2 separate regions of the Homo sapiens genome follow, and region 1 is linked to region 2. A link means that fine-mapping ties the variant in region 2 to the expression of a gene that starts in the linked region. Tissue or cell type: fibroblasts. Region 2 holds a variant in brackets; the other region holds the start of a gene. All regions are shown on one strand. Distances are between the middles of the regions.

What was found. PIP is the estimated chance that this variant, and not a neighbour inherited with it, causes the effect.
Region 1: NIN starts here. The variant in region 2 is fine-mapped to the expression of NIN in fibroblasts (GTEx, PIP 0.97).

Annotation. Positions count from the first base shown.
Region 1 is chr14:50,827,463-50,835,567 of GRCh38, reverse strand. It overlaps NIN (ninein), which reads left to right and starts at 4,406. Exons shown (of 31, transcript NM_020921.4): 1 at 4,406-4,562; 2 at 5,051-5,104. RefSeq lists silencers at 4,065-4,514, 4,565-4,844, 4,915-4,964, 4,985-5,104 and an enhancer at 5,675-5,724.
Region 2 is chr14:51,128,489-51,136,593 of GRCh38, reverse strand. No RefSeq gene overlaps it. Among named protein-coding and RNA genes, the nearest start is that of TRIM9, 37 kb to the right of the region's middle. The variant C/G (reference allele first, on the strand shown) is at 4,088.

The DNA.
Region 1 (8,105 bases), 300 kb after region 2:
CTAAGTGCTCAGCCCATGGGATCCAAAAGACACATGTGCAATAACCACTTCCTGCTATGCTTCAGTTGCTGCGCCAAACAATGAACAGAGAGACAAGGCATTCAATACACATGAGGACTGATGATCTGGGCTGAAAGAGCAGCAGAGGGAAGATTAGAAGGTCCACATGAGCAGAGTGGAGGGAGGGTAGGTTTCCTGCAGACACTGAGGATACATACCTTTGCATTGATCAGGAAGGACCTTGAATGTCAGGAAAAAGATCTAGGACCTGAAGTGAAAAGCAATGGTCAGAATGATCAAATGGAAGCCACGTTTTAGGGAAATCATTGCTCTCTTCTTCCCATGCTGTAGCGTGTGTATGTCCCCCAACTGGAGAATGTAATTAGAGTCCAATGCCACCTAACATCACTCCTTTACTGTCTCATGAGTGCATATTTTTACCTTCCCAAAAGAGAATGATGCATTCCTCAAGGGTAAGAACCAAGGTTGATTGTTACTTCATTTTGTTTTGTTTGAGACAGGTTCTCACTCTGTCACCAGGCTAAAGTGCAGTGGTGTAATCGTTGTTCACTGCAGCCTTGACCTCCTGGGCTCAATCGATGCTCCTATGTCAGTCTCCTGAGAAGTTGGGACCAGAGGCACGTGCTACCCAGCCTGGCTAATAAAAAAAGAGGAGTAGAGAAGGGGGGTCTCACTGTGTTGCCCAGGCTGGTCTTGAACTCCTGAGCTCAAGCCATCCACCCACCTTAGCCCCCAGAAATGTTGGGATTACAGGTGTGAGCCACCATGCCCAGCCTGATGTTTATTTTGAACATTGTGTGACTTTCAGGACAGTATTAGGCACAGGGTAGGCAATCAATGCTTACTTTAAAAAAATAAATTGTATGGAATCCTGGTTTCCTCTTCTTTCATTTTCTTCATAAGGAAAATGAATAGAGAATCCTAATTTCTAATAGGTGTCCCCCAGGGGCAAAAGTGTAAATCAGTTTGCCTTCTGTCACCTTCCCTTCCCTTTCCTATACTTTTCCTCTTTCTTCCTGGGTTCTTAACCACCAACATTTTGCTGCTGGAACTCTTAAGTCCCTGACTTGTATGTCTGGAACTCAAATTTCTCCCTTTTTCCTTTCCTCATTCATTTTCCTTAGGGCCTTGGGGAGATCATTGATGTCCCTTTCTTTCACCGAGTGAGTTCCTGGGCCAAACTATAACTGATCATCTACTTTAACAATCTGGCTGTCTTTGACACAGCTCTGCAACTTGCCTGAAAACTGTCCTGCTGAGTTCAAATGGTCACAGAAATAAGAAAGATATCGATTAAAGAAGTTTAGAAGGAGCCAGGAGTTGCTACATGAGTGACAGGCTGTTTGACTATTCTGTGAATAAAAAATAGTTTATACCCAACTGTGAGTTGGGAGAGGGTAGACTATGTTTGGTTAGAGCCTTTTTTTGGCTAAGAAAAAAAAAAATAACTTTTCAGGTTCCAGGAAATTTACAAAGCCTGACTTTTTCTCTCTCTTTTTCTCTCTCTCTCTCATTTGTCGTCTTGACTCTAAACTGATAATTTCAAAATTACTTCAAGAAGAAACAAAGAGTAGGCCAGGCGTGGTGGCTCACGCCTGTAATCCCAGCACTTTGGGAGGCCGAGGCAGGATCACTTGAGGTCAGGAATTCAAGACCAGCTTGACCAACATGGTGAAACCTTGTCTCTACTAAAAATTCAAAAATTAGCCAGATGTGGTTGTGCACATCTGTAATCCCAGCTACTTGGGAGGATGAGTCAGAAGAATCGCTTGAACGCAGGAGGCCAGGAGGTGGAGGTTTCAGTGAGACAAGATTGCACCACTGCACTCCAGCCTGGGCGACACAGTAAGACTCCATCTCAAAAAATAAATAAATAAATAAATAAAAAGAAAGAAAAGAAACAAAGAGTAACTTTCTCTTCCCTGGATTATTCTTTAGTTAACGTTTTAGAGCTTTAACCATCTGAGAAAGCCAGTTCCGTACTGTGAAATATGGCAGAAAACCCTTCAAAAACTTCACGTACAAATACTTCAAGGATCCTAGGTCCTTGAACAAGGTTCTTTGTAAAGTGAGAGTAAAAATCAGAGTCAGATAAGCTGCAACAGATAAGAGTGAAGTTTTGTTTGTAAAGGGTGATAACTCTGAATAAATATTTACATTTCTTCTTTTCTCTCTTATATTGGTTATAATGTAGAACTGGAGCCTGGTTGCTACTTCTGCTGTTATTTTGTGTTTAACAGAGAAAAGATCAAGTAATGGGCTCTAAAGGAAGTCTCTGCTTTTTTTTCCCATGACTCCAGTTTGGACTAAGACTAACCATGTGCTCAGTGCAAACCAAACTGCAGGCCCATTGTGTTAAATAAATCATCTTTCTTGGTAGAGTTGCTCTTGCCAACCCACACCACGCGGTAACCATGCTCCATGCTTTCCCTCCTTTGTAGCAAGGCTGGAGGTGATCCCAGTTCCCAGTCCCAGGGCTAACTCCACCCCACTTACTCCTCTCAAGAAAGCGCATCTTGTGTTTTTCAAATTACACAACCCCCAGCAATTCTGATCTTCCTGCACAGGGAGTGAATGCCACTTCCAATATCCCCTGACCCCCAGGAATCACTGTTTTAAACTAATGATCAATATCATCCTTAAGGATTCTTGCAGGTTAAAAAGCGATGCTTGGAGAGGTAACCAGTAGGATGAGGCTTCCATGGCAGAGATTAGGTGAAACAAGAAAGACACCTCTTCATTCTTACCTTCCAAGACTGTTGGCTGTTTTAGTGCCCAGTGAGCATTATTGTCTGTCTTACAAGATGACCTCTATGTAAGTATTCTGGTAACAGGTTAGCTATCCTCTTAATGAACTGCGTGTGTGTGTGTGTGTGTTGTATCATATTACTGGATGACTGAACAACCATGCATACAGTGTATGAGTGTGTGTTTGTGTGTGTATGTGTACTTATTCAAGACTGTTTAAAAAGGAGAGAGGAGCATAAATCTCTCTTATTCTGCAGGCACGCTTATATACCGTGTTGAAAGAAGAGAGCCTGGGCTTTTGAATAAGACTGAGATGTTTAAAATTTTTAAAAAAATTTTTTGAGGTAACTGTAAATTCGCTTGAAGTTGTAAGGAATAATAGAGAGATTCCCTATAGACGCTTCACTTAATTTTTCTCAATGGTAACATTTTGCATAACTGTAGAACAATATTACAATCAGTAAATGGACATTAGTGTAGTCCAAATGTCTTATTCAAATTTCATGAGTTTCACGTGCTCTCATTTGTGAGTGTATATTCAGTTCTATGCAATTTTGCCACATATGTGATCTGCTTTTGAATCTCAGTTCTGTGGAGTTCCTGCTGTGTGATCCTGAGGAAGCTCTTTGACTTCTGGGAGATCCATTTTCCTCATCTGCAAAATAATGTCTGCCTCCTAAGAGTGATGTGAGAATTAGATAAGATAATTTCTGTCGAGTTTCTAGCGCACTGGATTCTCAAGGAATGCTGGTTTCCTCTTGTCTGTTGCTTGCTTTCTCGGTAGAAAAGGAATCACCAGTTTCCTGCTAAAATAACCAGACTTGTGGGTTGTAATCCATCAGGCGGATCCTTCAAGGGCAACACATTTAACCCTGCAGCTCAAAAAGAACCATGGCCTGGACTTGGGATCCTATTTGACTGCAATGAGATCAGAAGTGTAGGGATGGGGGAGTGAGAACGCAGACTCTGGGGTAGTAGGTAGGAGGCGATTAATATCGAGCAACTGTTGGGCTGGGAACCACCAACTCCAAGGAGTTTTCGTCCTGTGTGGCTTGCGACCGAGGGTTAGCTTCACCCGGAGAAGGCTGCACAGGGGCGGGAGCCTGTGAGGACGTGGTGGGCAGGTGCGGAAGCCAGTGTAGACCCGGCAGGAGGGTCGCGCTCGCTCTACAGGGTTCCGAGTCACTTCTACAGCCCTTCTGCCTCCTGAACACCCTTTCCAATGTTGATGGCCAATCGACACCCGAGGGCTGGGAAATCACCCCCTTAAAGTCCCGCTTGCTGAAGGCGGGGGCCCTTCCTCTGCGCGAAGACGCTGCGGCCCGAGTGTCCGCGGTGCGGGTGAGTGTAGGCGTGTTGGGAAAGAAAGGGAGGCGGACAGGCAAGGGGCGAGGGTGGCAGCGCCAGCCCCAGCTCGGTGGCGACCTCGGGGCGCCAGCCTCCTACACCCGCACCCGGAGCCCCGGCGTTTCTAACTTCAGATCTCGGAGGCGGGCGCTCGGAGCGGGAGGGCGCGTCTGCGAGGGCTCAGGCGGCGCCGCCCGCTCCTCCCTCCGCTGCCTGAGCCGCGCGGGCCGCAGAGGAGGAGCCGCGCCGGGGCCGGCGTCGCCCTGACTCCTCCTCCCCGCGCGGGCCCGGCCCTTCCTCCCCGGCGTCCAGAGCTCCGGGTGGCCGCGGCCGAGCCGGGAGCCGAGCGCGCTGGGCGCGGCCGTCCCGCTGCCGCCGCCAAGCCCGGAGTGCGCCAGCGGCCATGGTTCCCGCGGCGGCGCCGGGCGCCTGAGCCCCGGGACGCAGTAAGTGGCGCAACCCCGGGGACCCGGACCCACGGCCTGGGGGTGCACGGAGGCCTCGCGCTGCCCCCGCGCCGTCGGCGAGGCCCTGAGAGCCCGGAGCGAACTGGGCACCGGATCACTCGGGGGCTTCCCATTTGGGGTCCGGGGCCAGCGGGGCGCAATCCCTGCGGGCCGGGAGGAAGCAGCGGCCGGGCGGGAGGACGAGGCGGGGACGGGGCTGCTTCGGAGGCGGGAGGAGGGGCCGGTCCCGGAGGCGCGGGCTGCGCGGGCGGGGGCGGGCCGGCGGGGGCGGGGAGGATGCGCGCTGCAGCCCGCGGCCCCCGAGAGCCGCGCTTTTGTAAGAGCTGGCCCCTTACATATGGAAATGACGCTCACGCGGGTCCCCATTCGCGTCCTTTTGAAGGACGCCCGCCCGGAACCGCTGCGCCGGCTGCGAAGTATTGTCCCGTTTCTCCAGCCCTAACAAAGCGTCCTCCTTCGCTTTGCAGAGCGCTGGAGGCGGGCTGCCGGCTGTGCGGGCGCTCCGGAGAGACCGACAGAAGGTAGGCGAGGGCGGCGGGGCCGGGGGAGCGCGCTGCCTGCCCACACAATGGGCTGTCTGAGGTTTCTGGTAGTGGCGATGGGCAGGCGAGTTGAGGACGCATCGCAGGTGGCCAGGGACTTGGGAGGCGCGCTTGTCCTGCGGCCGCACCTCCGCTTCCCCGCGCGGCAGCACCGCTGGGTTTGGGCACTTCCAGTACCCCCGACGCCCCGGCCGCCTGCCCGGAGCTGAAAGCCGCTTCTGTGCTTTGACCGAGAGCAGGCTTGAGTCCCCGAGGGAGCAGAAGGGGTGGTGGTTCCGTTGGCATGTGCCGCCCGTACAGCCTTGTGATTGAGACGCTGCAGAGGAAACTGCATGGGGAAATCCGAGGTGTTAGCCTGGGCTGTCTGAGTAGCGGAGAGCTGCTTGGAGCCCGGAAAGTGGAGATTTTTGGAGGTGTGCGGGGTCGATGCGCGTAAACAGTTTCCCAGTATAATGCCCAGGAGAAGGGGAAAGAACAAAATGACATTTGGTTATTGCCTAAAAGGTGTGGCATGGAGGTATGGAGTGTCGGGGAAGGAAGCTTCCAGCGGCTAGGCTTCTGTAGCTACCGAAGCGGCCCCTGACAGAAGGACACTAGGTGATGGGAACAGTCACTGCTTCCAGCTCTCGCTGCGAAGTTAAAAGAGATAGAGACGGAAAGAGGCAATTTCCCTAACCCCAGCCCTGACAACCCGAGGTGAAGGCACCAACAAAATGGGAGCTGGAAAGACTGCCCTACCATATATCATGTTTCCAGACAACTTGGATATTATGAGATCTGCTTTCTGCTCCTAACTAGGACAGATCCTCTCCTGGTGTTGAGGACTTCTAAGATGGGCTTGCCATACAGCTCAACTCCTGAATTTATTACATCGAAACAGATTGCGTAGTTGTCTTTTGTGACTGACATGGTAGCTTTGTAGGATGAGAATCCTGATAAAGTCCATCCTGACACATGAGGGAAGCCCCTGGAACCACGACGTTTCTCAGTTAGGTCCCCGTAAACACCATAACATACACACATGTTTGCATGATTCCGGAGGCTTGATGATCTAACAAGGAAAATTCCTTTTTTCTGTCAGTTTAATTTTACCTTGAGTCTTCTCTCGTGGTGAGCATATTATATAGGTGGCTGACCTGGAATATTGGTGGCTCTTGCTCCGGAGTTGAAGGGAGCTGAGGATTTCCAGAGTGTGTATAGGAGGAACATTACAGGCTGGCTGAAAAACGAGTTTGTGTGTTGTGGTCTCTTCAGCTATTGTCAGTGTCCTTTGGGAGGTGATGTGAACTGCCCGGGAATTTGTTTGCAGATTTGTTTATTTTCCCTGTTCTCTGGTGATTCTTTAGAGGGAAGCATTCTGCAGAGTGGGGAAAAGGTAGGATGAATGTTCCACAGGGTTGGACATCGGCAAAGTTATTACCAATACAGGGAAAGGCTTCACAGGGGGCAATAGAGAGGAAGCCATCATACAGTCTGCATTAAAATGTCAAGGATCAGTCATTTTAATAGGCACTTGCTCAGAATGGCGTGGGGTTCTTTTTTCTTATTTCTTTTTCATTTTAGATGTGTAATGACCCTTAATATCAAAAGATGTTAACTGTCACAGAGGGGGAGAATAGGGCTCCAGTGAATTCTGAACAGCCAATCTTAATGTAATAGGCAGTATTCTTATCATGAGTCAAATGTTCAAATAAATTGTTTTAAATGTCACTGCAAATGACTTTCTAAACTAACATTTCAACTATCTTGATGCTTCCATTTTATGTTGATAATGAAAATGCATTTTATCAGTCTTACATTGATAAAGGGTGGGCAAGCTTAGCCAGAGCATTTTAGAAGGATTTAAACAGCGTGAAGCCTTTTTAGAAGGCTTATTTTTATAGATGCCAATTCATTTGTAAGCCAATAAATTATCTGGTTTGAATTCTAGCTATTGAACTTGCATCTGTTGGGCAGGGGCTTATGGAGAGACTTAGTGAAGCTTGCAAAAAGATTTTTATCCTATTTATGAATAAAATAGAATTTTGAAAAGATTATGAGATTCTGAAAGTGAGCATCCTTGTTTGAAATTAGGACACTTCTTTATTGCAATTTAAGTCAGCAATTAACCATTTATTCAAGCTTTTGGATGGAAAAATTACAAAGCATCTATCTATACCCTAATTCTCACTTTAAAAACAAAGTTGGGAAAATATTGTTCATAGACGTGAGAAGAGAAGATCACCTTCACTTACACCTCAGGGTACCATACTCATAGCCTCAGGCATCCTAAATTAATGTGAGTCAATATGGCTTAAGAAGTGGAAGTTGTTATAAGCTTTCTCCTTTTTTTTTTTTTTTGTAACAAACATGCAGCTCTGTTTTCTGCTTCTGTAATTTACTTAGTAGTTGATTACAGGTTACTGAATGCACATTGTGCCAGGCTAATGGCGTTTTTTTGTTGTTGTGTTTTTTGTTTTTTGTTTTTTTTTTCCTGTAGCTAACCTGAGTTAACTACTTGATTGGGTAATCTACCAGTTATTAGGTTGAACAAAAGCATGGGTTTATTACATCCTTCAGGATAGTAAAATAATAAAGGTTGCTTACATTTTCGAATAAACGCTGATAGGATTCCCTTAGTTAAATATTATAGTGTAGTTGACAAAGGTTGTTATTTTTCTTTTTCTTTCTTTTTTTTTTTTTTTTTGATACGGAGTCTCTCGCTCTCTCCTGGGCTGGAGTGCAATGGCATGATCTCGGCACACTGCAACCTCTGCCTCCCAGGTTCAAGCAACACTTCTGCCTCAGCCTCCCGAGTAGCTGGGATTACAGGTGTGCGCCACCACACCTAGCTATTTTTTTTTTTTTTTTTGTATTTTTAGTAGAGACAGGGTTTCAACGTGTTAGCCAGGATGGCCCCGATCTCCTGACCTTGTGATCCACCTGCCTCAGCCTCCCAAAGTGCTATGATTACAGGCATGAGCCCCCGCTCCCAGCCATT
Region 2 (8,105 bases):
CTACATGTCTGTTTTGGTACCAGTACCATGCTGTTTTGGTTACTGTAGCCTTGTAGTATAGTTTGAAGTCAGGTAGTGTGATGCTTCCAGCTTTGTTCTTTTGGCTTAGTATTGTCTTGGCTATATGGGGTCTTCTTTGATTCCATATGAAATTTAAAATTGTTTTTTCTAATTCTGTGAAGAATGTCAGTGGTAGTTTGATGGCAATAGCATTGAATATATAAATTACTTTGGGCAGTGTGGCCATTTTCACAATATTGGTTCTTCCTATCCATGAGGATGGAATATTTTTCCATTTTTTTGTGCCCTCTCTTATTTCCTTGAGCAGTGGTTTGTAGTTCTCCTTGAGGAAGTCCTTCACATCTTTTGTTAGCTGTATTCCTAGGTATTTTATTCTCTTTGTAGCAATTGTGAATGGGACTTCATTAATGATTTGGCTCTGTGCTTGTCTATTGTTGGTGTAAAGGAATGCTTGTGATTTTTGCACATTGACTTTGTATCCTGAGACTTTTGAAGTTGCTTATCAGTTAAAGAAGTTTTGGGGCTGAGATGATGGGGTTTTCTAAATATAAAATCATGTCATCTGCAAACAGAGACAATTTGACTTCCTCTCTTCCTATTTGAATACCCTTTATTTCTTTCTCTTGCCTGATTTCCTGGCCAGAAATTCTAATACGGTGTTGAATAGGAGTGGTGAGAGGAGAGCATCCTTCTCTTGTACTGGTTTTCAAAGGGAATGCTTCCAGCTTTTCCCCATTCAATATGATGGTGGCTATGGGTTTGTCATAAATAGCTCTTATTATTTTGATATATGTTCTATTAATACCTAGTTTATTGAGAGTTTTTAACATGAAGGGATGTTGAATTTTATCAAAGGCCTTTTCTGTATCTATTAGATAATCATGTGGTTTTTTCTTTGGTTCCATTTATGTGCTGGATTACATTTATTGATTTGCATATGTTGAACCAGCCTTGCATCCCAAGGCTGAAGCCAACTAGATCATGGCAGATAAGTTTTTTGATGTGCTACTGGATTTGGTTTGCCAGTATTTTATTGAGAATTTTTGCATCTATGTTCATCAGGGATATTGGCCTGAAGTTTTCTTTTTTTGTTGTGTCTCTTCCTGGTTTTGGTATCAGGATGATGCTGGCTTCATAAAATGAGTTAGAGAGGAGTCCCTCCTTTTTAACTGTTTGGAATAGTTTCAGAAGGAATGGTACCAGCTCCTCTTTGTATTTCTGGTAGAATTCAGCTGTGAATCCATCTGGTCCTGGTCTTTTTTTTTTTTTTTTTTTTTTTTTGGTTGGTAGGCTATTAATTACTGCCTCAAATTCAGGGCTTGTTATTGGTCTATTCAGGGATTCAACTTCTTTTTGATTTAGTCTTGGTAGGGTGTATGCATCCAGGAATTTATCCATTTCTAGATTTTCTAGTTTATTTGCATAGAGATGTTTATAGTATTCTCTGATGGTAGTTTGTATTTCTGTGGAGTCAGTGGTGATATCCTCTTTATCATCTTCTATTGTGTCTATTTGATTCTTCTCTCTCTTCTTCTTTATTAGTTTAGCTAGCAGTCTATCTGTTTCGTTAATTTAAAAAAAAAGGCCGGGCGCGGTGGCTCACGCCTGTAATCCCAGCACTTTGGGAGGCCGAGGCGGGCGGATCACGAGGTCAGGAGATCGAGACCATCCCGGCTAAAACGGTGAAACCCCGTCTCTACTAAAAATACAAAAAATTAGCCGGGCGTAGTGGCGGGCGCCTGTAGTCCCAGCTACTTGGGAGGCTGAGGCAGGAGAATGGCGTGAACCCGGGAGGCGGAGCTTGCAGTGAGCCGAGATTGCGCCACTGCACTCCAGCCTGGGCGACAGAGCGAGACTCCGTCTCAAAAAAAAAAAAAAAAAAAAAAAACCTGCTCCTGGATTCATATAATTTTTGGAGGGTTTTTCATGTCTCTATCTCATTCAATTCTTCTCTGATCTTAGTTATTTCTTGTCTTCTGCTAGCTTTTGGATTAGTTTGCTCTTGCCTCTCTAGCTCTTTTAATTATGATGTTAAAGTGTCAATGTGAGATCTTTCTAGCTTTCTGAGGTAGGCATTTAGTGCTATAAATTTTCTTCTTAACACTGCTTTAGCTGTGTCTCAGGGATTCTGCTGTGTTGTCTCTTTGTACTCATTGGTTTCAAAGAACTTCTTGATTTCTGCCTTAATTTCATTATTTACACAGGAGTCATTCAGGAGGAGGTTGTTCAATTTCCATGAAATTGTGTGCTTTTGAGTGAGTTTCTTAATCTTGAGTTCAAATTTGATTGCATTGTGGTCTGAGAGACTGTTATGATTTCAGTTATTTTGCATTTATTGAGGAGTATTTTACTTCCAATTGTGTGGTCGATTTTAGAATAAGTGCCATGAGCACTGAGAAGAATGTACATTCTGTTGATTTGGGGTAGAGAGTTCTGTAGACGTCTACCAGGTACACTTGATCCAGAGCTGAGTTCAAGTCCTGAATATCCTTGTTAATTTTCTGTCTTGTTGATCTGTCTAATACTGACTGGGGTGTTAAAGTCTCCCACTATCATTGTGTGGGAGTCTGTCTCTTTGTAGGTCTCTAAGAACTTGTTTTATTGGGTGCCCCTGTATTGGGTGCATATATATTTATAATAGTTAGCTCTTCTTCTTGAATTGTTCCTTTTACCATTATGTAATGCCCTCTTTATCCTTTTTGATCTTTGTCGGTTTAAAGTCTGTTTTGTTAGAGCCTAGGATTGCAACCCCTGCTTTTTTTTTTTTATTTCTGAGATGCAGTCTTGCTCTCTCACCCAGGCTGGAGTGCAGTGGCACGAACTTAGCTCACTGCAACCTCTGCCTCCCAGTTCAAGAGATTCTCCTGCCTCAGCTTCCCTAGTAGCTAGGATTACAGGTGCCCACCGCCATGCCCAGCTAATTTTTGTATTTTTTGTAGAGACGGGGTTTCACCATGTTGGCCAGCCTGGTCAAGAGCTGAACTCCTGACCTCTGGTGATCCGCCCCCCTCAGCCTCCCAAGGTGCTGGGATTACAGGTGTGAGCCACCATGCCTGGCCACCCCTGCTTTTTTTTTGCTTTCCATTTACTTGGTAAATTTTCCTCCAACCTTTTATTTGGAGCCTGTGTGTGTCTTTGCACATAAGTTGGGTCTCCTGAATACAGCACATCGATGGGTCTTGACTCCTTATCCAGTTTGCCAGTCTGTGTCTTGTAATTGGGGCATTTAGTCCATTTACATTTAAGGTTAGTATTGTTATGTGTGAATTTGATCCTGTCATCATGATGCCATTTGGTTATTTTGCACACTAGTTGATGGAGTTTCTTCGTAGTGTCATTGGTCTTTATGTTTTGTTGTGTTTTTGCAGTGGTTGGTACCAGTTTTTCCTTTCCATATTTAGTGCTTCTTTCAGGAGCTCTTGCAGGGCAGGCCTGGTGGTAATGAAATCCCTCAGCGTTTGCTTGTCTGTAAAGGATTTTATTTCTCCTTTGCTTATGAAGCTTAGTTTGGCTGGATATGAAATTCTGGGTTGAAAATTATTTTAAGAATGTTGAATATTAGCCCACACTTTCTTCTGGCTTATAGAGTTTTTGCTGAGAGGTCTACCATTAGTCTGATGGGCTTCCCTTTCTAGGTGACCTGTTCTTTCTCTCTGGCTGCCCTTAACATTTTTTCCTTCATTTCAACCTTGGAGAATCTGACGATTATGTGTCTTGGGGTTGATCTTCTCATGGAGTATCTTAATGGTGTTCTCTGTATGTCCTGAATTTGCATGTTGGCCTGTCTTCTAGGTTGGAGAAATTCTCCTGGATAATATCCTGAAGTGTGTTTTCCAGCTTGTTTCCATTCTCCCCATTTCCTCTGGTACTCCAGTCAATCATAGGTTTGGTCTTTTTATAAAGTCCCATATTTCTTAAAGGCTTTGCTCATTCCTTTTCATTCTTTCTTCTCTATTCTTGTCTGCATGTCTTATTTCAGTAAGGTGGTCTTCAAACTCTGATATCCTTTCTTCTACTTGGTCAATTCAGCTGTTGTTACTTGTGTATGCTTCACGAAGTTCTTGTA[C/G]TATGTTTTTCAGCTCCATCAGGTCATTTACATTCCTCTCTAAACTCGTTATTCTAGTTAGCAATTCCTCTAACCTTTTATCAAGGTTCTTAGCTTCTTTGCATTGGGTTAGAACATGCTTCTTTAGCTCATCATAGTTTTTACTATTCATCTTCTGATGCTTACTTCTGTCAATTCGTCCATCTGATCCTCCATCCAGTTCTGTGCCCTTGATGGACAGACATTGCGATCATTTGGAGGAGAAGAGACACTCTGGTCTTTTGGGTTTTCAGCATTTTCTTTGTTGATTATTTCTCGTCTTTGTGAGTTGGTCTTGTTTCAGTCTTTGAGGCTGCTGACCCTTGGATGGGGTTTTTTGGGGGTCTTTTTGTTGTTTTTGTTATTGTTGATGATGCTATTGTTGCTTTCTGCTTGTTTTTCCTTCAATAGTCCTGTCCCTCTTCTGTAGGGCTGCTGCTGTGTGCTAGGGGTTTACTTCAGGCCCTATTAATCTGATTTGCTCTGTGCCTGGAGATGTCATTCAAGGAGGCTAGAGAGCAGCAAAGATGGGTACCTGATCCTTCTTCTGGGACCTCTGACCTTGAAGGACACCAACCTGATGCCACTAGGATTGCTCCTGTATATGGTGTCTGACAACCCATGTTGGAGGGTCTCACCCAGTTGGGTGGCATGGGGAGCAGGACTCGTTTAACAAAGCACTTTGTCCCTTGGTGGAGAGGGTATGTTTCACTGGAGGGAAACCCACTTATCTGGTCTGCCCAGATTCCTCAGAACTACCAGGAGGAGTGGTTAAGTCTGCTAGTCTGCAGAGACTGTGGCCACCCTTCCCCCTAGAGGCTCAGGCCCAGGGAGATCTGAATTCTGTCCCTGAGCCTCTGGCTGGGATTATTGGAGATCCTGCAGGGAAGCCCCACCCACTAAGGAAGGATGGGTCAGGGTTACGCCTGAAGAGGCTTGTAGTAGAGACAGGGTTTCACCATGTTGGCCAGGCTGGTGTAATACTCCTAACCTCAAGTGCTCTGCCCACCTCGGACTCTGAAAGTGCTGGATTGCAGGCATTAGCCGCCACTCCCAGCCCAAGTTCCCCCTTTTAATGCCTTTGAGAAGGTATAACCTGTGTCACTTTCTCAGATTTCAAGGTCCAGGGGTAGATTGCCAATAAACCCAATTCTGGGAGTCAGTGTCAGTACATTTCCCTGATATCACCCTGAAATCCTGATAAGTTAAAGTCAATAAACATTAGTTGAGTACCTGGTATGAGTCAGGCAACATGGCAGGCATTAGAGATACAAAGAGCTCATAGGCTGGTGAGGTGGACAGACATTTAAATGCAAAAATATAGTATAATGAATCCAATAGTAGAGGGATGTGCAAAGCAATAAAAGGGCAGGGAAAGCTTTGCAAAAGGAATGGATTGAGGTGGGTTTTGAATGATGAACAGGAGTTTGCCAGGTGGGAATAAGGAAAATAGCACAAGAAGGGAAAAGTAAGTGCAAAGCACATCCACAGGAACATCGTATTCTCAGGGAACTGAGCATGGTTCATTGTGGCCATAGTTTACTGCCTGGTTTCTGGCCTATTGGCACCCCCTCAGAAACTCTGTGGAGAGGACAGGAAGACATGCATGTGTGTAAGCATGTGTTCATCTATGCACTTGAATCTGAGGGTAGGAAGTGATGGCATTTTACAAGGCGGTGTCTGGAATCTTGTGAGTTGTGGTCAAATGCCGGAGCCTAGTGATGCTGTGTTAGGAAGGGGATTGCAGGGTGACACCTGATTCCTTGAGGCATTGAGATGACTGTTAATAAACAAAATTATAAGACACCTGGGGACAGGAAATATGTCCCATTTAGGACTTTAGAAAAATCAACTTTTGACTGATCCAATTTCAGCAATATGGCAGACTGAGAAACATGAAAACCCTCCCACTGCAATGCCTAGAAAGGATTTATAAAATATAATACAAATTATTTTAAATGCAAAGCCAAATTCATACATTCTTAAAACAGGAACATCTCCAAGTGCCAGAAAATGGGTCACTGGAAACCACAGAGGTGACCTGAAACCATAGGCCAGGGTAGTTCAGGGATAAGGGATGCAGATGGATAGTGAAGGGTAAGGGGAAGCTTACAAGGAGGAATCAAGAAATCCACAATCATAGTGAGACTGTAACACACCTCTCTGTTACTGATAGTTCAAGCAGACAAAAACCAAGGTTTAGATTTGAATATCATAGTAAACATTCTATTTGTCCTTGGGGAAACCAAACAAACATTATAGGATCCTCAGCCACAGCCTAAACCCTTGAAGCACTTTCTCAAAAGGAACAAAGATCCATGATATGGAAGTGAAGAGTGCTTCCCTCCTGTTTGGGATCTTACCTTTTATGTGAATCCTGAATGATAAATAAAAGTTCTAACAAATGAGCAGCTCTCACGAGGGACACAATGGATGAGGAGGATTCTTTTGACCCTGATTAGAAGGGAAGAGGAGCAATTGAGAAATAAATATTAGAGTTAAACTGTTGTGAATGTGTATTAGTTTTCTATGCTGTGTAACAAATTACCACATATTTAGGGGCTTAATACAAGACTAAGTGAAAGAAGTCAATCAAAAAAGACCACATATTATGCAAGTTCATTCACATGAAATGTCTTGAAAAGGCAAATTTATAGAGACAGTCAGTAGTTTAGTAATTGTGTAGGGCTGAGGAGTTGGGGAGTAACTGCTAATGTGTGTGGAGGTTTTTTGGGAGGAGATGAAATGTTCGAAGATTGTGGTAATGCTTACAAACTCAGTGAATACACTAAAATTCATTGAATTGTACATTTTAAATAGGTGAATTATATAGCATACAAATTATACCTCAATAAAGCAATTAAACATGCACACTAACACATACATACACACATTATCCTGTCACAGTTTCCATGGGTCATGATTCTAGGAACCATTCAGCTGGGTCCTCTGCTCTCAAATGGTTGCAATCAAGGTGTCATCTGGGCTATGTTCTCATCTGGAGGCTCAGTTAGGGAAAATTTGCTTCCAATCTCACTCAGGTTGTTAGCAGAATTCACCTTCTTGCATCTGTAGATCTGAGGGCTTTGGTTTCTTGCTGTATTGGGTAAAGACCACCCTCAGCCGCTAGAGGCTGCCTGCAGCTCCCAGCACACAGCCCTCTTCATATCCAGGTCACATCATGGCCACTTGCTTCTACAGAGCCAGTAGGAGAGCAACAGTGAGTGCCAGTAGCATGGAGTCTTCTTTAATGTATTATGACATAATCATAGGGGTGATATCCCATCACCTTTGCCATATGCTTTTGGTTAGAAGTAGGTTGCAGATCCAGCCGGGCGCGGTGGCTCACACCTGTAATCCCAGCACTTTGGGAGGCCGAGGCAGGCGGATCACGAGGTCAGGAGATTGAGACCATCCTGGCTAACACAGTGAAACCCCATCTGTACTAAAAATACAAAAACTTAGCCGGGCATAGTGGCAGGCACCTGTAATCCCAGCTACTCAGGAGGCTGAGGCAGGAGAATGGTGTGAACCCAGGAGGTGGAGCTTGCAGCGAGCTGAGATTGCGCCACTGCACTCCAGCCTGGGCGACAGAGCGAGACTCTGTCTCAAAAAAAAAAAAAAAAAAAAAGAAGTAGGTTGCAGATCCTACTCACACTCAAAGGAAGGGGATTTGAATATTAGAAGGCAGGGGTCATTGGGAGTAACCTTAGAGTCTGTCCACTGCTGGCCACGACCTGGATATAGACATTCTGTGTTGCTATCCTGGGACTGTTTATCAACAGCTTCCTCACCAATGCCAGAGCAGGGTAACGACTTCCCATCTCACCTTCGGCATGTTGTTGATACAATTTGTCCCATAGCCATTGCCTATAAATGATGGCGAACACAAAACTTGCTAGTTTTCACTTGTGTATTTTATAAAAGTACTATACGACTATGGAAACATTCCAAACAGTACAGATAGGTATAAGTATTAAGTAAAGATTCTCTATGTCTT